Regions from separate parts of the Homo sapiens genome. Here region 2 is linked to region 1. The links come from fine-mapping of genetic effects on gene expression. A gene starts in region 1. The other region holds a variant in brackets. All regions are shown on one strand. Distances are from middle to middle. Region 1 holds the start of CITED4 (Cbp/p300 interacting transactivator with Glu/Asp rich carboxy-terminal domain 4). Region 2 has its middle 53 kb from the start of CTPS1.

Region 1 (12,603 bases):
ATCGTTTTGTTTCAAACAAACACATGTTTTTGGTCAAAATAAATATACGCTTAAGACAAAATAATTTTCAAACAATGTAGAAAGCACAGAGTAAAAAGTCAGACCACCCCCACACAAGACTTTTCAAACACACACGATTCCATTATACTACACATACGTTACATACATATACATAATACACATCTCTTTTTTATATAAATAGGATTATAATATTTTATTTTATTTTATTATTTATTTATTTTTATTATTTTAAGACAGAGTTTCGCTCTTGTTGCCCAGGCTTGAGTGCAATGGTGCAATCTCAGCTCACTGCAACCTTTGCCTCCTGGGTTCAAGTGATTCTCCTGCCTCAGCCTCCCAAGTAGCTGGGATTACCGGCACCCACCACCACACCCAGTTAATTTTGTATTTTTAGTAAAGATGGGGTTTCACCACGTTGGCCAGGCTGGTCTCGAACTCCTGACCTCAAATGGTCCACCTGCCTCGACCTCCCAAAGTGCTGGGATTATAGGCATGAGCCACCACGCCCAGACTATTTTTATTTTTAAAAAATTATTTTGAAAATTTGTTTTGCCAACCTTAGAGTTAACTACACCTCATAAATAAAAAATGAAATTTTAAGTTTAAAATGTATTAAAATTTTCCTGGACTCAAGTGATCCTCCTGCCTCGGCCTCCCAAAGTGCTGGTATTCTAGGTGTGAGCCACCATGCCTGGCCCAGCACTTCCTAATGCCCTCTGAGCCACACAGGGGGCGATGGTGAGCCTTACAGTCTGGTGGAGAAAGACCCCTCAGCGACTCTGACACACAAGGTAATAGGCCTTTGGATGTGGAAAAGGCCCTATGGAGGGCATTTCAGGCTGAGGAAATGGCACAGGCAAAGGAACAGAGGCTTGGCGGCACGAGGAACATCGTGCATGAGGAGCCTGGGGTGGCTGGAGTTGAGGGTGGGAAGGCACTTGGAGGCTGGGTGGGGCAGGGCTCTGTCCTTCTCGTCCCTGTGGTCATATTTCCCAGCCACAGCTCCACCTGAGCAGCTCACGGGTCAGGCACTTAACATCACCTTGGTTCATTCTCACAAGAAGCTTATCGTGTCTCTATTTGACAGACGAGGGGACTGCACTCAGAGTAGCTTCCTTTATTTCTTCTATCCATCAGGGCACACTTTGGGCCCTGGGCCTTTACTCATGCCCAGTCCCCCAACCTGTGTGTCCTCCCCAAGCTGACCCACATCCCACTCTTTTATCAGCACCAGCCCTCAGGGCCGTCCAGACGCTGAGCTGCTCAGCAGTGCCTCCTTAGAGCCCTCAACATGAGACTCTACGTTGCATGCTCCAGGCTGGCCAGATCTCAAGCCCCAAAGTATATGCAGGTGTCCTCTTCCCAGACCAGCTACAGGATAAGGGCCATGGTTGTTCAGCCACAAACCCACTTTGGCCAGGCAGCACTGCACTGCTTGCAGTGTGCTCTCAGAAACCCAGCCTCATGTGAATCTTTGCACACACATTCTTCAGATGTTGGAATTATTCTCTCCATTGGATGGAAGAAGGAATCAAAGCCTAAGGAGGCCCAGTAACTTCCTCTGCAATTCACAGCCTCAGAGTGGCAGATCAGCTCTGGGACTCTGCTCTTATCCCACCCAGGCTCAGGTCCTTGGCCAGATCCAGCCTGGGAAGGGGACAGGCCCTGGATATGGTGGGGTGGACATGCTCACCTCACCTCTTACTGAGGTGTGACTTGGAGTAATTCTCTGAGTGCCCCAGTTTTCTGACCTCTGGAATGGGGATAAACTACCTAGCAGTGCTATTTACAGGGTTGGGCGGTGATTAAAGAGAGACTGGAAAAGAAAGAGTGCCACTGGGCACTCCCCGTCAGTTCCCACCATGCCTGCACGCAGCAGCCACTCAGTAAGCACTTATTTGGTCTTATAGTTGGCACTAATCTTGTCCCAGCACTTCTAACAACAGGGTGGCATGAAGAGTTAGGCCACGATGGATTAAGGAATTCAAGAGGATTACTTAGTAATCAGCTAAACCACTTAAGCTGCCTGGGAAAAGGCTAGGATCAGACTGATCATTAATTTATTCGATAAATGACTGTTGAACACTTATCTGACCTGGAGTGATGACGATGATGATGACAATGACGATGATGATAATGATGATGACAATGACGATGATGATGACAATGACAATTATGATAGTGATGGCAGCGCTCAGTTATTGAGAATCTACCATGTGTGGGGTATTTTGTATAGAGTCTCATCACATCAAACCTGTAAGGTTGATACATTTACATTTTGTTGTTTTTGTTCTGTAATGGGGAAGGTGCTGGTCAGGTCTGAGACTAAGGTGAGGCAAAAGAGATACCCAGGGCATAAATTTAAAGAGTCCCTTGCTGTTGGGAACCAGAGTCCCCACCCCAGTGCTTGTGGTGAACACTGTGATGTGCCGCCCAGAGCCCCCTTCTATGAAATCATTGCCCTAGTCTGGGCACGGTGGTGCATCCTGTAATCCCAGCACGTTGGGAGGCCAAGGCAGGCAGATCACTTGAGGCCAGAAGTTGGAGACCAGACTGGACAACATGGTGAAACCCCATCTCTACTAAAAATACAAAAGTTAGCTGGGTCCGGTGGCACATACCTGTAACCCCAGCTATGCAGGAGGCTGAGGCAAGAGAATCACTTGAACCCGGAAGGCAGAGGTTGCAGTAAGCAGAGATCGCGCCACTGCACTCCAGCCTGGGCGACAGAGTGAGACTCTGTCTCAAAAAAAAAAAAAAAAAAAAGAACAAAAGAAAAGAGAAGAAAAGGAATCATTGCTCTAGCCCCCAGGAGTGCTGCTGTTGGTAGACAGCCGTACCCTGGCAGCTCCTCCAGGGATGAGCTTAGCTGGGGACAGCTGCCTTGCCCACAGTCACACCACTTCTCTGGGTGGCTCACATCCAGTGACTGATGGAGGCAGGAGTATAAAGGATTAAAATGGTCCAACTCAGGCCAACTCTGAAGGGCCCTTCTAGCTCCAGAGCTCCCAGCGGGGCTGGCTGAGGCTCCTGCTGGGCCTGCTTTGTAGCTTCTTAGCTCCTTCTGTCCCCTCCCTTCTGCAGCTGCTGATCCTGAAGGCACTCCCTAATACACCTCTTGCTAGCTGAATGTCATCTCAGAGTCTGCTTCCCAGGGAACCCCACCTGTAACAGTGTTGCTTGTTGGAGTAACCCCTTTCTAGCTGGTTAAAACACAGCCTTTCTAATATTCTAATACAAAGGCATCTCCAAAAAGTGCTGTTATCAGGGATAACAGCACTTACTACAAACCACACTGCTCTCAATACTTTACCTGCACTAACTTGTTTAATCTCCACAGCAGTTCTGCAGGGTGGTACTATTAGCATTCCCATTGTAGAGATGAGTTCAAGGGAAATTATACTTTTCTTGAAGGAAAAAAAACCACACACACAAATGACAGCTTGTTGATAAAATCCAGTCAACCAAAAGATAATTCAAAATAAAGAACATCAGCCTGGAAACTTTCATATGAATAGGAAAACAAAACAAAACAACAACAACAAAAGGATGGGAAAATGACTTGTGTCATGACTCAGTTCTCAACCCTGAGGAAGCCTGATTTCTGACCCCCAAGATCCAGCCTAGGTATAAGAGAGAAATCCACAGCACCCTTTGGCAACAGGTTGCTTTAGGAGGCAGCCCTGGGGGAGACATGAGCGACACCCTGTTGGCACCACGGAAGCTCGTGTGATTATCTTAGGAGAGCCAAGATGCGGGAGGTGTGGTGGCTTCCTTGAGGTCAGGCAGCTAGTAAGAGTTGCTTCTGAACTGGACCCTGAGGCTGTCAGACGACAAGCCCATTGCTCTCCTCACTGTCTCTACACGTACTCTCTCTTCCCCTGGTAGGGGATGGTAGGGTCAGAAGCCTCCAAACAGTATCAGGGATTTGGGGATCCAGGCTGTGGGATGCCCCAGCCTCATCTTCTCCCCTGTCCATCTGTCTGCTGTCCAACTTGTCAGCAGTCCCTTTTGGAGGGATGCAGGAGGGAAGAGCTCAGCAGCTGGACTCTCTCCTCCGCTTCCCCCTTAACTCTGGAAAGAGGCAGGTGTTGGGGTTTTCGTTGTAATCCCTTCCATATGGAGAGCACTTCAGAGTTTGCCAACTGCTTATCAACCCATCTCTGAATTTGTTCCTTACTAATTGTGAGGGTTATTGCTTTGTAATGTAGCAGGGCAGGGATATTAGCCCCATTTTACTGGTGTGGAAACTGAGGGGAGAGAGAAGAGAATCAGGGAAGTGTTCAGCTCAGGGTCAAACCCTCCTGTACTAATTCAGCCCTGTGGTTTCTGTCTCTGGCCTGGGGTTCTGGGCAAAGCAGCGGGGCGGTGGGGTGGGCAAATGCCAGCCCCTCTGAGCCCAGAGCTCAGGCCAGTCCCTTCCCAGAAGGCTCTCTTCCTTTCTCTCTTCATCCTGTCCCAGAAATCCCATGATCTTAGGGAGACCTTTATTCATTTGCCAAACACCTCCTGTCACCAGCCACATTCCATCCTGGTAGCTTCAGAGCACAGTAGGTCCTGGGAGAACTCACAGGTTGGTGGAGGGTCACATCCACAAAAAAGCCTGGCTTGAGAGTCAAGCCCAGCTGCTGGGGACAGAAGGTCTCAGCCTGGTGTTCCCCTCCAGTGTCCCTGGAATCCATGCTCTCCTAGAGAATGCCCCACCACCGCAGCGTCTCTGACCCGGCCTCCTCCCTGACTTCAATCTCTTTCCCAGCTTTTCTCCCACATCTCAGAAGCACCTAGGGATTTTTCCAGAGTGAACTGCAGAGGGTGGCCAGGAACTCACGCTGGTGCTCAGGACTCTGAGGCCAAATCCTGCCAGGCCTGGGCACACTCCACAACCCTCATGTGTAGAATGAGGACTGTGCTTGCCTCACGAAGTTGTCGTAAAGCCATTCGACCTTTCTTGTACCTTCTAGACACCCCACACCTTCCCCAAACATTCATCGTACTTGTGTGCCTTCCTGCCTTGAAACAGGCTCCTCTCCTAAAAACATATTCATCACTCAAGGCTCTGTTCATCACGTCAAATGTCACCGCTTCCCTGAAGCCTGAACTGACCCCAACCTCAACTATTAATAGCTGAAACTGCTCCCTTCTCTGGGTGTGCCCGCTTGGCCGGTCTATTGTCCTGGCTGTACAATCCCCCCCAGAACTATTTTCTTTTTTCTTGAGGAGTCTCGCTCTGTTGCCAGGCTGGAGTGCAGTGGCATGATCTCGGCTCACTGCAACTTCTGCCTCCTGGGTTCAAGCGATTCTCCTGCCTCAGCCTCCCGAGTAGCTGGGACTATAGGCGCGCACCACCATGCCCAGCTAATTTTTATATTTTTAGTAGAGACGGGGTTTCACCATATTAGCCAGGATGGTCTCGATCTGTTGACCTCGTGATCTGCCCGTCTCGGCCTCCCAAAGTGCTGCTTAGCACTGTTTTCTAGAACTCATCACAGTCTTCCTTGCAGCAAGATTAGTTTGTTTTCAGGCCTATCACCCACCTCCTCCCACCTGGGCTGTGATTCCATGAGAACATGCACCAGGTTGACACAGGGCCTGGAATAAAATCAGCACCAATTTGTAGAATAATAATTGCCGTCACTTACTGAGAACTGCCCAGGTATTTGGCACTGTGCTAAAGGCAGCGTAACTACCTGAGGAGACGGGGACCATCTCCCTCTGGGAAACCGCCTCAAAAATCAGAACGGATGGTGTCTTGGGCAAAGGAGAGAGTCAGGGTCCAAAGCTAGGCTGTCTGAACTCGGTGCCACCCAGCTCCTCTCTGGCAGAGCACCAAGCTCCCCCCACCCTACCCTAGGAGCTGGGAAGCCCAGTGGGTTACCCCACCACCCAGTGGCAGCCTCTGCCCTCCAGGTTGTGACATAACAATTGCACAACCCACGAGATATTTTTGAAAGAAACTGTCGGTTTCCTCTCCTGGGCACTGCTGGGGACTGTGGCCCCCATGCCATCCAGTGTCTTCAGCAACCTTGGGACTTTGGAAGCTAAATATAGTCAGGGCTCGGGGTGATAAGGAAATGAAAACGGCAAGACTGTAAAGTGACCCAGTTTTATTTTGGTTTTGGAGGCCAGACAGGGCATTGCTCCACGGGTTCGGGCTGTACAACCTTCCCCTCCTTGAGGTGGGAGGCCCAGCAACCACAGGGCCCAGGCAGCGGGGTGGGAGGCTCAGGAGATGGTGGCTCTGGGGACCCGATCCCGAGGAGAGAGGGGGCAGCAGGCAGAGGCCTGCAATGGCTCAGATTGGGGGAAGAGGGCGGCGAGGGGGAGAGGACACGATCCAAGAACCAGAGTCCGAAAGCTGAAGCTGGTCCGGTCTCTTTCACTTTACGGCCGAGGCTGGGGTCAGAGAAGTGAAGCCAAACTGTCCTCCCGCAGGAGGCAAGGCCTGGAGGGACGCCAGGGTCCCAGTCCGGTGCCGGGCCCTGCGCACACAGCCGCCGCCTCCACCCTCGCGGAGGGCGCGCGCGGGGCCCAGTCGCTGGGTGCAGGGTCCGGCGGGCAGTCGGGCCCTTTCTCCTCTCCGGCACGCCGGGCGGGCGCCGGCCGCCCTCAGCAGCTCACGGAGCCGGCGGGCGGCGCGGACCCCAAGTCCGAGAAGCAGTCGAACTCGCTCTGGCCCAGGAAGAGCTCGGGCAGCTCGCGCACGCGGTGCAGCCCGAGCTCCAGCTCCAGCGACGTCAGCGCCTCCTCGTCGATGAGTTCGGCGTCCATGCCGCCCAGGGCGTGCGCGGGCGGCGGCGGGGCTGCGGCGCTTGGCGCCGGCTGCGGGCCCGGGGGGCCTCCCGGAGCGTTGGGGGGCGCGGCCGCGCGGCCGGGGTACGGCGTCGCCACAGGCTGCAGGTGCGCGATGCCCGCGGCCGGCGGAGGCACGGCCGGAAAGGGCTGGAAGGAGGACGGCGGCCCGAAGGCCCCGTACGCCAGGGCCCCGGGTTGGCGGGGCGGCGGCGGCCCCAGCGGAGCCCCCCGCGGCCTCAGCCCACTGTCCAGGCCCGGGCCCGCGTACGGCGGCAGAGTCCGGAGCGCATGAGGGCCATGGGCGGCCGCGGCGGACGGCGGCCTCTGCACCAGGCGGTAGCCCTCGGCGAGCATCAGGTGGTCGGCCATGGCGGCAGGCCGGCTGCCTGCGGGGACAGCGCGCGGTGGTCAGCGCCGGCTCCCCCGGCCCGGGCCAGCGGCTGCTCTGCGGCGGGAGACCCGGGCACCGTGCGGTCCCTGCAGCTCGGCCGGGCGGAGCAAAACCAAACCCGACTGGTGCCCCGGCCCAGCCCACTACTGCGCACCTTGCGGCCGCAGCCTGGGGTCACAAAGGCCCGCAACCTGTAGTGCTCCGAAACCTCCGCGTCGCGTAGCTGGGCTCGGCGTATTCTTATACCCAGAGGCGGGGCTTCCCCGCCCTCGGACGCTCATTGGCTGGGCGAGACGCTTCTGGGCGGGCCGCGCACGCCTGCATCTAGGTCTTGGCCCCGCCCCTCCCACTGGAACCCCGCCCCTTGGGACTCCGGCCACGCCCCAGGCTCTGAGCACCGCCCTGGGGCGGGGTATTTGGCACTTTCGGAGGGATTCGGTCTGGCCCTCAGGGCTTCGGAATCGGACTTGGCTGGGGTAGAGCTTGAACTGACCAGAAGGTGGGGTGGGAGGGCCAGAGTTTTAGGCCCCCCAAGAGCTGCAGGATGTCAGGCCTACGCAACCTTTTAACTTTCCAGGTAGAGACCGAGGCTCAGTGGCGGAAGAGGCTTCCTGGAAATACACAGCAAAGCCTTGATCAAAGTGAGACTGCACAGCTACACAGGGCGCATGCACCTTAGCGGTGCAGGGTCCCCGCAGGAGGTCAGCTGTCCATTCCCATAACCCCCAGGAGAGCCTGTTGCTCCCCCTCTAGTTCCCACTGCACCTTGTCTGTTGAAGCATGTACTTAGTTGTTATTAATTTATGGGCACGTCTCCTGAAGGACTTGTTCATCTTCTTCTTCTCAGCACTTGGCCCAGAGCCTGGCCCAGAGCAGGCTTTTAGTAAAAGCTGAGTGAATGAACTAATGATGGAATGAATTGCAACTCTCAGCTGAGCCTCAGTTTCTTCATCTGTAAAAGGTAAAGAACAGCAGCACTGACCCTTTGTGAGGGGTAAGTGAGGGCATGTGTGCACAGTGCCTAGCACAGTGCCTGGTATGTGGTAGATGCTCAAAAGTGTCCCTTAGATGAAAGAAAGGCTATTTAAGTTCTTTTTTTTTTTTTTTTTGAGACGGAGTCTCGCTCTTTCGCCCAGGCTGGACTGCAGTGGCGCTGTCTTGGCTCACTGCAAGCTCCGCCTCCCGGGTTCACGCCATTCTCCTGCCTCAGTCTCCCGAGTAGCTGGGACTACAGGCGCCCGCTACCACGCCCGGCTAATTTTTTTTGTATTTTTAGTAGAGACGGGGTTTCACCGTGTTAGCCAGGATGGTCTCGATCTGCTGACCTCGTGATCCGCCCGCCTCGGCCTCCCAAAGTGCTGGAATTACAGGCGTGAGCCACCGCGCCCGGCCAAGGCTATTTAAGTTCTGTCCCAAAGGGCCTTCTCTTGATAACAGCAATAATAACTTGGACTTTTAAAGTGCTTTACATTCTACAAGTATTTTGTTGGGGGCAGGGCATGGATTATCAGCCCCATTTCAGTGATAAGGAGAAGCACACAAAGAGAAAGTGGCTGTCCTGAGGTCACAGGCAGCCAGAGTTAGCGTGTGAATGCCATGTGTTTTCCAAGTCCTTAGGGCAACTGGAGTCTTTCCTGTGGCCAGGAGACAGCCTCCCAGAACCTTACCCTCCACGCATTTGACACTCTCTCTCCCTTCTCTGACCTTCCCCCGACCTGTGGCATCCTTGGGACTTCCTGGAACTTGGGTTTATCCAGTTGATGTAGAGGGGAGAGCCCTAGAGTGAGAATTCAGGGGCCCAAGGTCTTTTCTTCCCTCTTTCTTCTTATTTTTTTAAATAGAGAAGGGAGCGGGGGGGAGGGGCGGCGTGGGGGAGTGAGGAGGGCCTCAGGCTTATCTCGAATCCCTGGCCTCAAGTGACCCTCTCACCTCAGGCTTCCAAAGTGCTAGGATTACAGGCATGAGCCACTGCGCCCAGCCAGAGGCCCAAGTTCTAATCATATCTCTGCCACCCACAGGTGTGTGACCTCCACCACCAACCAGCTGTGACTGTTGAGTGTTGAGCGGGGAGTATTACTTGATTCCCCAGGGCCTCAGCTTTCTGCTCTGTGAAAGGGAGACGGTGATCTTGCCTGGTCAGCCTGAGAGCTTGTGGGTAGTGATAAATGACCATGGGTGTGGTCACATTTTTGCAAAGTGTAAAAAGCTACACCCTGGAATTTATTCTCCTGAATCTTTCTCTACAGGTAAGGCTTCTCACAGAAATTCTTAAACCTGGCCATGCCTCACACTTATCTGGAGATGTGGGGGGTAAGGGGTGGGTGAGTGGGGGCTTTGATAAAGACGGAAAATCTGCCCAATTTGGGAGATGAAAGTGAGAGGATTGCTTGAGCCCAGGAGCTCAAGACCAGCCTGGGAAACATAGTGAGACCGTGTCTCTACAAAAAGTTAAATAATTAGTTGGGCATAGTGGCATGTATCTGTAGTCTGAGCTACCCAGGAGGCTCAGGTGGGAGGATTAGCTGAGCCCTGGAGGTGGAGGCTGCAGTGAGCCATGATGGCACCACTGCACTCCAGCCTGGGCGACAGAGATCTTGTCTCAAAAAAATCAACAAGCAGGCCAGGTGAGTGGCTCACGCTTGTAATCCCAGCACTTTGGGAGGCCGAGGTAAGTAGATCCCTTGAGCTCAGGAGTTTGAGACCCCTGTTTCTGAAAAAATAAAAAATTAACTTGGCATGGTGGTGTGCACTTGTAGTCCTTGCTACTTGGGAGGTTGAGGTGGGAGGATCACTTGAACCTGGGAAGTTGAGGCTACAGTGAGCTATGATCACACCACTGCACTCCAGCCCGGGTGATGTAGGGAGACCCTCTCTCAAAAAACAAAAAAAAACAAACAAAACAAACAAAAAATTATTCTGCCATCATTGGTCTTAGGTCACCAGCATTTGGGAGCCATTGCACCACCAGATGATTTTCCATTTAAAAAAAAATGTGTGTGTAACTAATGTTTAAGAAGTTCTTTAGGCCGGGCATGGTGGCTCACACCTGTAATCCCAGCACTTTGGGAGGCCAAGGTAGGCAGATCACCTGATATAGGAGTTTGAGACCAGCCTGGCCAACATGGTGAAACCCTGTCTCGACTAAAAATACAAAAATTAGCTGGGTGTGGTAGCACACGCCTGTAATCTCAGCTACTCAAGAGGCTGAGGCAGGAGAATTGCTTGAACCCAGGAGGCGGAGGTTGCAGTGAGCCTAGATAGCGCCACTGCACTCCAGCCCCAGCGACAGAGTGAGACTCCATCTCAAAAAAAAAAAAAAAAAAAGAGAAAAGACAAAAAAAAAAAAGGAAAAATAGAGTAGGAAGGAGGTTGGGGTGCAGGGGAGGAGGGGAGCAAGTTGTAGTATTAAGTGGGGTATCTGGGGCAAAAGCGGGCTGGGCGTGGTGGCTTACGCCTGTAATCCCAGCACTTTGGGAGGCTGAGGTGGGTAGGTCACTTGAGGTCAGGAATTTGATATCAGCCTGGCCAACATGGTGAAACCCCGTCTCTACAAAAAGTACAAAAATTAGCTGGGTGTGGTGGCACGCACCTGTAGTCCCAGCTACTCAGGAGGCTGAGGCAGGAGAATCGCCAGAACCCAGGAGGCAGAGGTTGCAGTGAGCCGAGATGGTGCCACTGCACTCCAGCCTGGGCAACAAAGCAAGACTCTATCTTTAAAAGAAGAAAAAAAAAAAAAGCCGTATCAGCAGAGAGAACGCTGGAGCAGCACTTCTAAAACTGTAGCAACAAGTCCTGAAGTGTCAGCCTTACCAGGGACCCCATTAGAAATGCACATTCTAGGACCGTACACCAGACTCAAATCAGTTTCTGAATCAGAAACTGGGCTGGAATTCAGCATCTGTGTTTTAATAAGCCCTGCGGGTGATTCTGATTAAGGACCTCTGAGTTAGGGGGAAGCCTTAGGCAAGGGTGAGCCGCAGCCCTAAGGGAGTGTGGACAGAGTGCAGTGGGGCTAGGAGGGTAGCAGGGAGGCCAACTGCATTGAGGCCTTGCAAGGACTTTGGCAGAGGAGTGACATGATCTGGCCTTTGTTCTGAAAGTGTTGCTATGGTCAGACCTCATTTGTTTCTAGAGTTTCCATAAACTGCTTCCTCCAGGCTCCTTGGATGCCCCAAGCACATTTGCTTCTCAGGACTCTTGCTGTGCCCTCTGCCTGGAATGCCCTTCCTTCAGACAGCCACAAGACCTTCCCTGACCACCCTCTATCCATTCTGTCCCCTTACTCTGTTTTGCTTCTGTCCTTAGCACCCACCACCATACAGTCATGCCCTGCATTACATTTGGGTCAAGACAATGGTCCTATAAGATTACAATGGAGCTGACAAATTCCTATCACCTAGTGACCTTGTAGCCACTGTAACGTCATAGCGCAACACATTCCTCACGTGTTTGTGGTGATGCTGGTGTAAACAAACCTACTGCGCCCCCAGTCATATAAAAGTATAGCACATACAGTTATGTACAGTACACTTGATAATGATGATAAACAACTATGTTACTGGTTTACGTACTTATGATATGTTTTATTGTTATTTTAGAGTGGACTCCTTCTACTTAAAAAAAAAAGTTAACTGTAAAGCAGCCTCAGGCAGGTCCTTCAGGAGGTATTGCAGAAGGCGGTTATCACGTGAGATGACAGCTGCATGTTACTGCCTCTGAAACCTTCCAGTGCGCCAAGGTGTGGAGGTGGAAGACAGTGATATTGATGATCCTGACCCCAGGCTAATGTGTGTGTTTGTGTCTTAGTTTTTAACAAAAACAGTAAAAAAAAAAATATTGAAAATAGAGAAAAGCTTATAGGATAAGGATATAAAGAACAAAAACGGGCTGTGTGTGGCGGCTCACGCCTGTAATCCCAACACTTTGAGACGCTGAGGCAGGAGGATCACTTGAGCCCAGGTGTTTGAAACTAGCCTGGGCAACATAGCAAGATCCTTGTATCTACCAATAATAAAAAAAATTAGTCAGGCATGATGGCATGCACCTGTAGTCCCAGCTACTTGGGAGGCTGAGGTGGGAGGATCACCTGAGCCTAGGAGGTTGAAGCTGCAGTGAGCCAGGATTGTGCCATGGCACTCCAGCCTAGGTGGCAGAGTGAGACCCTGTCATAAAAAAAAAAAAAAGAGGGCCAGTCACGGTGGCTCATGCCTGTAGTGCCAGCACTTTGGGAGGCCCAGGAGGGCGGATCACCTGAGGTGAGGAGTTCGAGACCAGCCCGGCGAACATGGCGAAACCCCGTCTCTACTAAAAATACAAAAATTAGCCAGGCATGTTGGTGCGTGTCTATAATCCCAGCTACTTGGGAGGCTGAGACAGGAGAATCACTTGAACCCAGGAGG
Region 2 (12,603 bases), 65 kb after region 1:
TTGGACTTCACAGCCCTCTGTTTGGTATCAACCTACCCAACCGCGTCTCATGTGACCCCTCCTTCTGCTGGACTCTCTACTGCTTATCCATCCACCTACTTTAACCCTGTTTATTGAGCCTATATTATGTGCCGCCATTGCTCTGGGAACTGAAGATGTTCCAGTGAATGAAGTGGAGCCCCCTCCCTCAAGGATCTCACAGTCTCTTTGGAGCAGACAGGCAATAAACATGTACACAAATGACAAATTGTATAGTACCAGAGTATGTTAAGTGCTCTGTACACAAGTCAAAAGAATAGGGCGTGATGAAGAGGATGTGTGTGGGAACCGCGAGGAGGCCATTGAGGTAGAGTGAGCACAGTGACCAGGCCACTGAGGTAGAGTGAGTGCGGTGACCAGAAGGGCTGGGAATAGAGGTCACAGAGGAAAGGCCATGGTGAAGAGTTTGAATTTTCTGAGAGACAGGCATGGTCCAACACTTTGGGAGGCTGAGGTGGGTGGATTGCTTGAGCCCAGGAGTTTGAGGCCAGCCTGGGCAACATGGTGAAACCTGGTCTCTACAGTTTTGTGCGTGTATATGTATACACACACACACACACACATATATACACACATATATACACACATGTATATACATAATGTGTATTTATATGTATAAATTAGCCAGGCGTGGTGGCGCATGCTTGTAGTCCCACCTATTTGGGAAGCTGAGGTGAGAGAATCCCTTGAGCTTGGGAGGTTGAGGCTGCAGTGAGCCAAGATTGTGCCACTGCACTCCAGCCTGGGTGACAGAATGAGACTCTTTCTAAAAAAAAAAAAAAAAAAAAAAACCTTCCATGGGGTGTGACGGAAAGCGACTGTCCTGTCTGTGTGCCATGCCCATTCCTCCCACTGGACCTCTTGTCTGAATGGCCTCCCCAAGCTTCTCCAGCATCCTTGTTATACTTAGATTTCAGGACCCAAGGCCAGTCATGCTATCATTCTGGAGCCTTCTTTGTTTACTCCAGACCACATTCATCTCTTCTTCCAAATTCCTAAGATGGTACCTTGGGTCTTGGGGCTTGGCTAGACTTCAAATTCAAATTCTCAAACATGTACTCTGCCCCCATGTCATGCCTATCACTGTGCTGGTGCAACACGTAGGTAACTCATCCAAGCCTCGCCACCTTCCCATGAGGTTCAAATTATGCCCAGTTTTTACAGATGGGTAAACTGAGGCTTGGAGCAGTTAAGCAACTTATCTGTGGGCTCACATATAAGGAGTGGTGGAGGAAGGATTTGAATGCAGCATCTGATCCCCCAAGTCCAGCTTCGTTCTCACTAGCCCTCAGCCACTTCTGCCTTTACATAATTTGATCATGGTCTTCAGGGGTCCCCAGACCTGCCCCTAATCTCCTTCCGCATCTTCACTTCTGCACGACCCACAGCACCCAGGGATCACCGGAGTAGGCACCCTGCACTTCTCTATGCCCCCTGCCAGTGGGATGTGACACTTGCAGAGTGAATAAGCACCCCTAGGGTGACAGCCAAGGCTGCCCACACCTCTCTCCTCTCCTGCAGTGGGTTCCTACAGGGAGCCAGCAGCCATCCAGTGGAACAAGGGGCCAACACTTCAGAAGAAACTGCCATATGCTGGAGTTGTGTTATTGTCAATATGACTCTTTCTTCCAGGCCTGTGCATGATGGCATGGGAATAGTCATAACAACCTTTACTACAGCAACTCTTCATTGGCACTAGCCCATCTTAAGCTTCTCCTTTTTGGGTTAAATTCAGGATGTCAATAATAATAACAACAATAGTTTTTTTGTTGTTGTTGTTTGTTTGTTTGTTTTGAGACAGAACTCACTCTGTCACCCAGGCTGGATTGCTGTGAAGTGATCTCTGCTCACTGCAGCCTCAATCTCCCAGGCTCAAGTGATCCTCCCAACTTAGCCTCCCGAGTAGCTGGCACTACAGGTGTGCACCACCACACCCAGCTAATTTTTGTATTTTTTGCTGAGATGGGGTTTCGCCATGTTGCCCAGGCTGATCTCAAACTCCTGGGCTCAAACCCTCTGCCTGCTTGGGCCTCCCAGAGTGCTGGGATTACTTGCATGTACCGCTGTGCCTGGACAACAATAGCTATTTTATCAAAAATATGCAAAATGAAAGGAAGCTGCTGGGCACTTTATGTACCCTATCTTATTTAATCCTTATAGAAACCCTAGGATGCAGGTATGATTATTATGCCCATTTTACAGATATAGAAACTGAGTCTCAGGCAGGCAAAGCAACTTGCCTGAGGCCACAGAGCTGATAAATGCTGAAACTCAAATCCCAGCTCCACCCTGAGGCTGGTGGACCTCCAAGTCCTTGATCTCAACCTCTGCACCCAGTTCTACAACCAGATAGGTGTTCAGGAGGTCCAACACAGGCAGTGGATAGGTGAGGAAGGCTTAGTGACTGGGGCTCCTCAGAGAGGTGCATAAAACCAGGGAAACTCAAAGCACTGCAGGGACACTGGTCTGAGTTTCAGGAACCTGGGTCCAGATCCTGGCTTTGCCTCCTCCCAGCCGTGTGTCCTTGCTCATGTTGCCTACCCTCTCTGCACCTTTATTTCCTCAGCTGTGAAATGGGTTGATAATAGATTCGCCCTCCAAGCCTGGTGTAAGAAGGAAGTATGATAATGTCTGTGAACATGCTTTGAGGCCCTGAAGCACCACGCTTAGTGCATTATCATCCATTCCCTGGACTTCTAGAATGAGTGAACCGTGGGAGAATCAGGAACAGCATCGGGGGAAGGAGGAGAGGAAAGTGTCGGATCAGGCTTTTCTGGGTAGACAGAGGTAGGTAAATGTCTTGCTCAGCCAACCTCACATGACAAGAGGAACCTGCTAACTAGGTCACCTTGCAGGAGGAAAGAGCTATTCCGGGATCCGCCTGCAGTTGCAGAGCTGGAGCTGGGGAGCTGAGCTGGCTATTTCAGGGGCGGCACAGAAAGCCCGTCCGACCGCTCTCCCTTGGATCTCGGCCCTGCCTTGGGCCTAGGGCCTTGGGCCTTGAGAGGCAGGGAGATTCTAGTGGACGCTGTGCTGGCACTCTCTGCATGGCTGCCCTCAGGCAGGGGGAACCATCAGGCCATCTGGAACCATCACAACACGATCTTCCCCATCCCCTGGGAACCACCATCCCAGGCAGCTGTGGGTGAGGGTGGCAAGATGCTAGACTTGCATTTCTCAGCCTGACTGGGAGTCTCAGCTCCTGAATGCAATGACCCTGCAACGCTGGGCAGTTTGCTCCAGCATTCTGGGCCTGGGTTTCCTCACTTGTAACATGGGGGTAATGGTGCTTATGTTCCAGGACTGTCTGAGGATTAAATGAGATAATGATATAAAGCACCAAGCACAGGGTCTGGCCCAGAGGAAGCACTTGATAAATGGGGATTGTTCCTAACTGAGCTTCTGTGGCATTCTATGCTGCAATAGTGATGGCGGGGAGGGGACACCTGAAAGAAGGCTGCACCTTGTGGGATGGGAATGGGGGCGGAAGGAGAGATTATGCTGGAGAAATTGAGCGTTTGAGACTGCTTAAAGAGAAGAATCCTTTTGGGAGGAGCCTGGGACTGTGAGGTCAGTGTGACCCAGGTGAGAATTGCTCAGCTCCCTGCAGGTTGGGCAGGTATGTCTTTACCTTCTGAGCTTCAGGTGCCTTGTCTGCAAAATGAGGCTGAAAATACTTAGCTCCTATAATCTGGCAAGAAATAAGTGAATTAACATAAAGCCTTTATTTAGCATAGTGCTTGGCACCTAGTAGGTGTTCAAGAAATGCCAGCTATTATTGTGTTATCTCATTTAGTCCTCATAGCTACCCTATAAAGAAAGTATTACTATCTTCATTTTATAGATGAGGAAATGGAGGCACAGAGAGGTTAAGTAATTTATGCAGGGTCTCATAGTGAAGAAGCTGTTTTACTAAGATTTGAATTTAGTCTGACCTTGGAATTCGCACTTTTAACTACCACTTCCCATGCTTGTGTGTGTGTGTGTGAGAGAGAGAGAGAGAGAGAAAGTATGTATAGCTATATGCGGATATGTGAAACAAAAAGATGAAAAGTGCCTAGCATGATATGGTTACATAGTCAGTGATCAGTAACCAGCAGCTGTTGTTACTGTAATTGTTATTCCCGTCATGACCATTGTTCACAATTTAATTGGCAATTATGAAACAGGAGTGGCCGGTGAAGGTAGAAAGAGTTCTAAAATATTAGAAAAGGCAACAATCCCATTCTCAAAGGACTTGTCAAAAGGAAAAGGCAAAAGAATAGTCATAAAGTCATAAGTAACTTTCTTGTAGCATTCTCTATAATTAGGAAAAATGGGGAAAATGTATATACCGAAGAATAACGGGGTGGTTACGTAAATTATGGTTGATCAGTGGCTCACACCTGTAATCCCAGCACTTTGGGAGGCTGAGGCGGGCGGATCACATGAGGTCAGGAGTTCAAGACCAGCTTGGCCAACATGGCGAAACCCCATCTCTACTAAAAATGCAAAACTTAGCCGGGTGTGGTGGTGCATGCCTGTAATCCCAGCTACTCAGGAGGCTGAGGCAGGAGAATCGCTTGAACCCAGGAGGTGGAGGTTGCAGTGAACTGAGGTCGCGCCACTGCATTCCAGCCTAGGCAATAGAGTGAGACTCCATCTCAAAAAAAAAAAAAAAGAAAGAAAAGAAAATGACACATTCATTTAGAATGATGATACAAGGACTTGACATGGAAAATGTTTATTACGTAATTACTATTACTGGGGAAATGCTGGATATAAAATTCTATTTCTGCTCTAATTATACCTCTGTTAAAATATCGACTGTATGTAGAGAGGAGCTAGAAAGAATATGCAGTGTCAATGTGATAAATGCTGGCATTGAGTATTTCTCTCTTTGTCATTGATTTAATAACTCAACCATCATTTATTAAGCACGTACTAAGGTCGGTCAGCATGTTAGGCATGGCTATTAGTATGGATTATATTAGGCTGCAGGAAGACTTAACGAGAAAAGAGGTTTTAGTGCCTCTCAGAACATTCAGCGGGGAAGCAGTTCAAAGCCGATGTGGCAGCTTCAGGGTGTCAGGGACCATGGCTCGCTCTCTGGGGGGGCTCTGGCATTTCTAGGGAGTTACCTTTTTCCACATGGTCCTATGGGGTACACCACCATGTCTATGTTCCAGCCAGCAGGGTAAGGAGGAGAAGCGGAGGGCATGCTTCTTCCAGGAAAGGTCTCACTGAAGTTGCTCACACCACCTCCCTCCTTATGCATTGGCCAGAACCTTGTTGCTTGGACACCCCTAGCTGCAAGCTAGACTAAGACACGTCAGGACTTTGGGAGGCCATTAGCCTTGCTAAAAACAGGTCCCAATTACTGCAGAAGAAGGGAGAACAGCAACAGGGGCACCCCTGCAGCATAACAGATTAAGTAAGTCAAAGCCACAATCCTGGAAGAACCCAGTGCCCAGTGAAAGTGACATACACTGTCAAGAAATTGGCTGGGTGCAGTGGCTCATACCTGTAATCTCAGAGCTTTGGGAAGTTGAGGCAGGAGGATCACTTGAGCCCAGGAGTTCAAGCCTGGGCAACAGGAAAAAAAATTTTTTTAATTAGCTGGGGATGGTGGTGTGTGCTGTAATCCCAGCTACTCCAGAGGCTAAGGGACGAGAATGGCCTGAGCTGGGGAGATAGAGGGTGAAGTGAGCTATGATTGCACCACTGCATTCCAGCTGGGGCAAATAATTATAAGACAATCTGTGAAGTGCTGTGATTGAGCTATAGGGTTACCAGGGACAGAATGACCAACACTGGCTGGGGGGCCATGAACAGCTTCATCTCCCATGAAGATTTTGCCTGGAACGATCCCATCCCACTCCGTTTGTACCATGTGGTTCTGTGCTCCCACCAAGACTTAACTGATCTCAGCAGTGGGTGAGGGGCACTCCTGACCAAGCTGGAATCATCCAAGGCCTGCTGGGAGTTTGAATGGAGTGGAGCGAAGCAGCATCTGGGGTCATGGTAGACTTGTCCCCTGAAGGCAGCAGGCTTCTACTGCAGTGATCCCTGGAGACATGCTAGACCTGTTCTTCAGACGATCCTTGATTCAACTCCTCTTCCTTCAGTCTGTGTGGTGCCTCCATAGCTCCCAAGATATCCATCCCACCACTCCCTCCCAGGTTTGTTTGTTTGTTTGTTTGTTTTTGCCTTAAGGTAGTTACTTGAGACCAAAATAAGCTGAACTAACTCAGAGGTCAGGGTAAGTTAACAAGCAGTTTCACTGAGATTCAATTCTAAGTGGATATCCCCCCCCCGGGTGCAATGTGC[A/G]ATAAGAAGCCATGAGGTTTTAAGGAGGGCAGAGGGGAAGGTTTTCCAGGCAGGGAATCAGCAGCGTATATATCTGGAAGCCTTTTATTTCTGTCAGTGGTTTATTGATTATGCAATAAAAGGACCGCTGGGAAGAGAAAACTCATAACAAAGGCCCTAGTGGGCCCTGAAGCCACCAGCCCACGACTATCTCTGGGTGAAGAGCTGGAGTTTCGTCCTCCGAGACAGCTGTGGTTTCTGCTTTGCTCTGTGATCCTAGGCCCTCCAGGAGATCTCTCTGGAACTGATTCTTCAATTTCTAAGAGAACAACAAGAGTATTTAAGGGGATTAAAAACCACAGCAATATCTATGAACACTTTAAAACCCCACTCTGTGCAGGCCTGGTTTAACCCTGGCGATGTAATCATCAATCATTCCTATCCTTGACCTTCCCCTGCACTCACTCAATGAGCAGCTCCCAAAAGTTGGGTCTCCACTGTGCACCTGGGGTCCACACACTTCTCCCCACCAGCTTGGCCCACCACTTCATCGAGCCTCTGGATGACTGCTTCGTCTCCTAACTGGTCTTCCTTTTGTTATTTTTGTCCCCTTCCAATCTGTTCCTACGATACAGCCAATTTGATCTTTTAAAAAATCAGATCAAGCTGGGTGCGGTGGCTCACTCCCAAAGTGCTCCCAGCACTTTGGGAGATGGAGGCAGGGTTGTTTGAGCCCAGGAGTTCAAGACTGGCCTAGGTAACTTAGGGAGACCCCATCTCTACAAAATATTTAAAAATTAGCCAGGCATGGTGGCATGTGCCTGTAGTCCCAGCTACTCAGAAGGCTGAGGTGGGAGGACTGCTTGAGGCCGGGTGGTTGAGGCTTCAGTGAGCCATGATTGCATCACTGCACTCCAGCCTGGGCAATAGAGTAAGATGCTGTCTCAAAAAAAAAAAAAAAAAAAATCAGATTAAGTGGAGGAAGCCAGTCTGAAAAGGCTACATACTGTGTTATTCCAAATCTATGATATTTCGGAAAAGGCAAAAACTATGGAGACAGTATAACAATCAGTGGTTGTGGCCAGGTGCGGTGGCTCATACCTGTAATCCTAGCACTTTTGGAGGCTGAGGCAGGCAGATCACCTGAGGTCAGGAGTTCGAGACCAGCCTGGCCAACATAGTGAAACCTCATCTCTACCAAAAATACAAAAATTAGCCAAGCATGGTGGCACGTGTCTGTAATCCTAGCTACTTGAGAGGCTGAGGCACGACAATCGCTTGGACCCGGGAAGCAGAGGTTGCAGTGAGCTGAGATCGCACCACTGCACTTCAGCCTGGGCCACAGAGGAAGACTCAACTCAAAAAAAAAAAAAAAAAAAAAAAAAGTAGTTGCCAAGGCCTTGGGAGGAGGGAGGAATCAGTGGAAAACAGGGGGTTTTTAGGACAGTGTGACTAATCTGTATGCTACTATAATAGTAGACACAGGTCATACATTATTCAAAACTCATGTTCAATACAGAGCAAATTCTAATGTAAACTGTGGACTTTAGTTAATAATAATGTATTGGGTCATCAACTGTAACAAATGTACCCCTCTAATGGAGGATGCTAATACTAAGGGAAATTGTGATATGTGTGCATGTATGCACAGTAGAGGGTGAGAGGGAACTCTGGACTTTCCGCTCAATTTTTCTATAAACCTGAAACTACTCTAAAAATAAAGTCTATTAATTTTTTAAAAATCAGATTATGTCATTTTCCTGTTTAAAACCTTCCAACGGCTTCCTATTGCACTTTGAACAACATAATAAAACTCCTTCCTCTGGCTCATGAAGTCCCCATGATGTGGCCCCTGCCTTGCTGTCTCCCTTCCCCAACTAACACTCCACAATGGGCTTCTTTCTGTTTCTCAAATATGCCCAGTTTTTTCTCACCCCAGGGTCTTTGCACTTGCTGTTCCCTCTATCTCGATGCTCTTCCCTCTGATTTTCAGATGGCTGGTTCCCTGTTATCACTGAGGTCCTAGCTAAACATCCCTTCCTTGGAGGGGCCATCCTGACCACCCAATAAGAGCAGCCACCCAGTCACTCAATGCCATGCAACCCTGGATTCTACTGGAAGTAGTTGCCATGGGAACAGGGGTCTTTTCTACCTTCTTCCTTGCTGTATCCCCAGCTCCTAGAACAGAGTCTGACCTGCAAAGGTCCTCCAGAGATACTGGTTGAGTGAATGTGAGTGAATGAATGAAAGAATCTTCTGAAACTCATTCAGGGCCAGGCCTATGCTGGATCCCAGATAAGGCATGGTTTGTGACCTCTGGGATCTCACAATTTAATACACAGAAGTTTACATTGGACCTCCCGAACAAAGTAGCAGAGTGGTTAAGAGCACAGGCCATGGAGCCAGACTTTGTGGGTTCAAATCCTGGCTCTGGTTGGGCTCAGTGGCTCACGGCTATAATCCCAGCTCTTTGGGAGGCTGAGTTGGGAGGATTGCTTGAGCCTAGGAGTTTGAGACCAGCCTGGGCAACATAGTGAGACCCCCATCTCTACAAAAAATTAAAAAATTAGCCAGACATGGTGGCATGCGCCTGTGGTCCCAGCTACTCAGGAGGCTGAAATGGGAGGATCACTTGAGCCCAGGAAGTCGAGGCTGCAGTGAGCCAAGATGGCACCACTGCACTCCAGCCTGGGTGACAGAGCAAGACCCTGTCTCAAAACAACAACAACAACAAAAGACAACTAGCTCTGGTCTGTAACAGCTGTGTGTGTAAAACACCCAGGAAAGTTTCTAGAGCATATTACATGATCAAGAAATGTGAGTCATCATTGATGTCATGCAGGCCATATAAAGATACATGAGGCTGCACAACTCCAACACCAGAGTTCAGGGAATTTGGGAAATCCCTTTATTTATTCATTTGTTTCTGGATCACTCATTGCAAGCCTTTGGAAATGAGCATGAGAAGGGGCAGGTTATTTTAGGGAAAATTAAATTTTTTAAATGGAGAAACTAATATTGACTGTACTAAGAGGCTTGATATTCAAGATGTCATTTTATCCTCCCAACAAATATTTGGGGTAAATACTGTAGGGCTATTTCACAGATGAGAAAACTGAGACTTAGGGAGGTGAGATGATTTGCCCCATGTGACCCAGCTAGGAGGTAGCAGAACCAAGAATGACCCCAGGGCACAGTGAGGTCATAACATGCCCCCTTCTCTCTCACCATCCCTGCTCCAGCAGGCATGGGCTCCAGTCCCGAGCCCGGGCTTACATGGGTGGCAGTGACACTGGGTGGTCAGGAGCTGGGATGTTAGTGTAGACGGACCTGATTTCAAGTCTTACCCAGGGCAAGACTTTGGGCAAGGTTCCATACTGGAAAACTGGGTAGCTGGGCACAATGGCTCATACCTGTAATTCCAGCTACTTGGGAGGCTGGAGAGCAGGATGGCTTGAGGCCAGGAGTTTGAGACGCGCCTGGACAAGATAGCGAGGCCCCTCGTCTCTAAAATAAACAAACATATCAGAAAAATGGGGTTCATAACAATATCTGCTTCATAAGATGGACCTCTGTGAGCACAGCTCTCAGGACAGCACTTGGCAAAGGGTGGGGAGTTGGTAAATACTCATTGAACAGAGGCACCATGGAGTTGTTGTGAGAGGTGAGATGAGATGAGGCTGATCTGTCAGATACATGACAACCAGTTCCCAAAATTTCTGAAAGAAGGACCAGAGCCAGGATTCCACAACATGGCACCTGTGTGAACAGGAGTTCTGAAGAGGGCATTCAGAGCCGGGAGGAACAAAAGGGATCATGTTGTTGACACATGAGGTAATCACCTGGCAGGTTGGTGGCAGAGCTGGCTGGAACCATGGCCATCCGTCAGTTCTCAGGCAGTGCATTGCAGGGGAGAGAACCAAAGAAAGTGTTCTTCAAGGCCAAGGTCCCTTCTGCCAGCCCATGGGGCCTCCGATTCTGTTCTCATGGGGAGTTGGGGTGAGGATGCCTGTGTCATCCATGGGTGAATTCTCCAGCCTCTCTGGGGAGCTCTACATGCCCGGCTCCCTCAGGCCCCAGCTAGTTCCAGGGTTTAGGTCCTGGAGAGGGCCACAGTGCTCAGGGTCTCAGAAGCCAGCTCTTCTTCCCACACCCAGAGCTCCTTCCCCAGCCGGGCCCACACTTTTGCTCCCTGGCTGACCTAGATTCAGGAGCTGGCTCATTTCCACAAGTAGACAGATGCTGAGGCACAGTGAATTAACACACATATTTCAATAAGTGGTGGGCAGGTGGCCCCACAGCCTCTCAGAGCCTCAGTTTTCTCAAATTTTTTTTTGTTTTTTTTGAGACGGAGTCTCGGTCTGTTGCTGAGGCTGGAGTGTAGTGACGCAATCTCAGCTCACTGCAGCTTCCACCTCCCAGGTTCACTTCTCCGGCCTCAGCCTCCTGAGTAGCTGGGATTACAGGTCCCCACCACCACACCCGGCTAATTTTTGTAATTTTAGTAGAGGTGGGGTTTCACCATGTTGGCCAGGCTGGTCTCGAACTCCTGAGCTCCTGTGATCTGCCCACCTCGGCCTCCCAAAGTGTTGGGATTACAGGCATGAGCCATCACACCTGGCCAGTTTTCTCAACTTTTAAAGTAGGGACAATAGCATTTACCCTTGCAGAGTTGTGAAGATTAAATGCACTTATATACTTGAAGTGCTAGCACAGTGGCTGAACAGAGTAAGTCAACAATACACATGTATTATGCATTCTTGCATTGCTATAAAGAAGTACCCGAGACCGGGTAATTTACAAAGAAAAGAGGTTTAATTGGCTCACAGTTCTGTAAGTTGTACAGTAAGCATGATGCTGGCATTTGCTCGGCTTCTGGGGAGGCCTCAGGAAACTTACAATTATGGCGGAAGGCAAAGGGGGAGCAGGCATGTCACATGACCGAAGCAGGAGGAAGAGGTCAGGGGGAGATGCCACACACTTTAAAATGACCAGACCTCGGGAGAATTCACTCACTATTGAGAGGACAGCACCAAGGGAATGGTGCTAAACCATTCATGAGAAACCTACCCCCATGATCTAATCACCTCCCACCAGGCTCCACTTCCAAAACTGGGGATTACATTGAATGTGAGATTTGGGTGGGGACACAGATCCAAACTATATCAACACGTTAATCTCTTTCCTTCCTCACATCTATCCCCACACTGACTTTGGAGGCAGCTTGCTAGCTCTCAGCCGGGCTTACGTCACCACCCTGCTTAAAAAATCTTTTATTCTTCCAGTGCTCTCTAAGCTAATGTGAATATTCCCTGGCTTGGCATCCCAGACCCTCCTCACCCGCCCCAAGCTGTTTGACCCGCCAGCTTTTTTGCCACCCTTTTCTAACTAATGTGCTGTCAAGTTAATAAGCCTTTCTTGGAAATGTCACTCATATACCCCTGCCTTGTAGACCCAATGCACATTAACATATTAAGGGTTCTGAGGAACATTGCAGGAAAGACATTTGTTTAACCTTGTTCAGTGCAGAATTTCCCAAGTGAGTTTGACTGTAGAATCCCATTAATATCCCACAGGACATGCGTTTGTTTCCTGAACACCCTTTGCAATTTCCTGCCTGCATGCTCTGCACAGGTGGGTCTTTCTTTCCACAAAGCCCTTCCTCCCCAACGCCTGTTTACTCATCACAGGAGGCCCAGACTGGCCGACCCCTCCTCCAGTTGGTAGAGCTGACTCCCTCCCCTGGGCTCCCTCAGTCTGTGTCCTCTGCCCCACCCTTGCTCTTCCAGTCCTCCCAGTGAGCATTCCTGCAGGGCTGCCAGCCCTCACTCTCGCCTCCCCAGCATCTGGCCTCCCTTGCTCCCCTGCCCCCACCCGAGATCCATTTGAGTCCTATCTATCTGTTCCCAGGGGACCACCAAAAAACATTTCCTCTAAGAACCTTTTCTGTATTCCTTAGTCAGGTAAAAAATAAACAATAAATAAAAATCTGTTTTCCTCGTGATTTTAGTTAAAGGTCGCTAAGGGTAAGGTCCATATTTTTGGTTTCTCCACAGTGCTTTGCACTTAGTAAGTTCTCAGTAAATGCATGCTTAGACATACATTCCACCATATTTATTGAACACCTATCATGTGTCCTGTGCTGGATGTTGGGGGCATAATGGGAAACACAACAAACCTGGAAGGCAATAAGGGAAGTAGGAAAAGCTAGGATTCTGGGAGACACGGCTTGCTTCTGAATCCTGGTTCCACTACTTACCAGCTATGCATCCCTGA

What was found.
Region 2: its variant is fine-mapped to the expression of CITED4 in subcutaneous fat (TwinsUK, PIP 0.95).

What each region holds. Positions count from the first base shown.
Region 1 is chr1:40,854,946-40,867,548 of GRCh38, forward strand. CITED4 (Cbp/p300 interacting transactivator with Glu/Asp rich carboxy-terminal domain 4) reads right to left here and starts at 7,418. Exons shown (of 1, transcript NM_133467.3): 1 at 6,109-7,418. The coding sequence starts at 7,182. The coding sequence ends at 6,628. LOC124904157 (a long non-coding RNA gene) reads left to right here and starts at 7,439. Exons shown (of 3, transcript XR_007066025.1): 1 at 7,439-8,165; 2 at 9,223-9,450; 3 at 11,803-11,986. LOC105378676 (a long non-coding RNA gene) reads right to left here and starts at 2,549. Exons shown (of 3, transcript XR_947239.2): 1 at 2,117-2,549. RefSeq lists silencers at 7,205-7,284, 7,445-7,644 and enhancers at 7,745-7,804, 10,228-10,777, 10,778-11,327.
Region 2 is chr1:40,920,214-40,932,816 of GRCh38, forward strand. No RefSeq gene overlaps it. Among named protein-coding and RNA genes, the nearest start is that of CTPS1, 53 kb to the right of the region's middle. The variant A/G (reference allele first, on the strand shown) is at 6,349.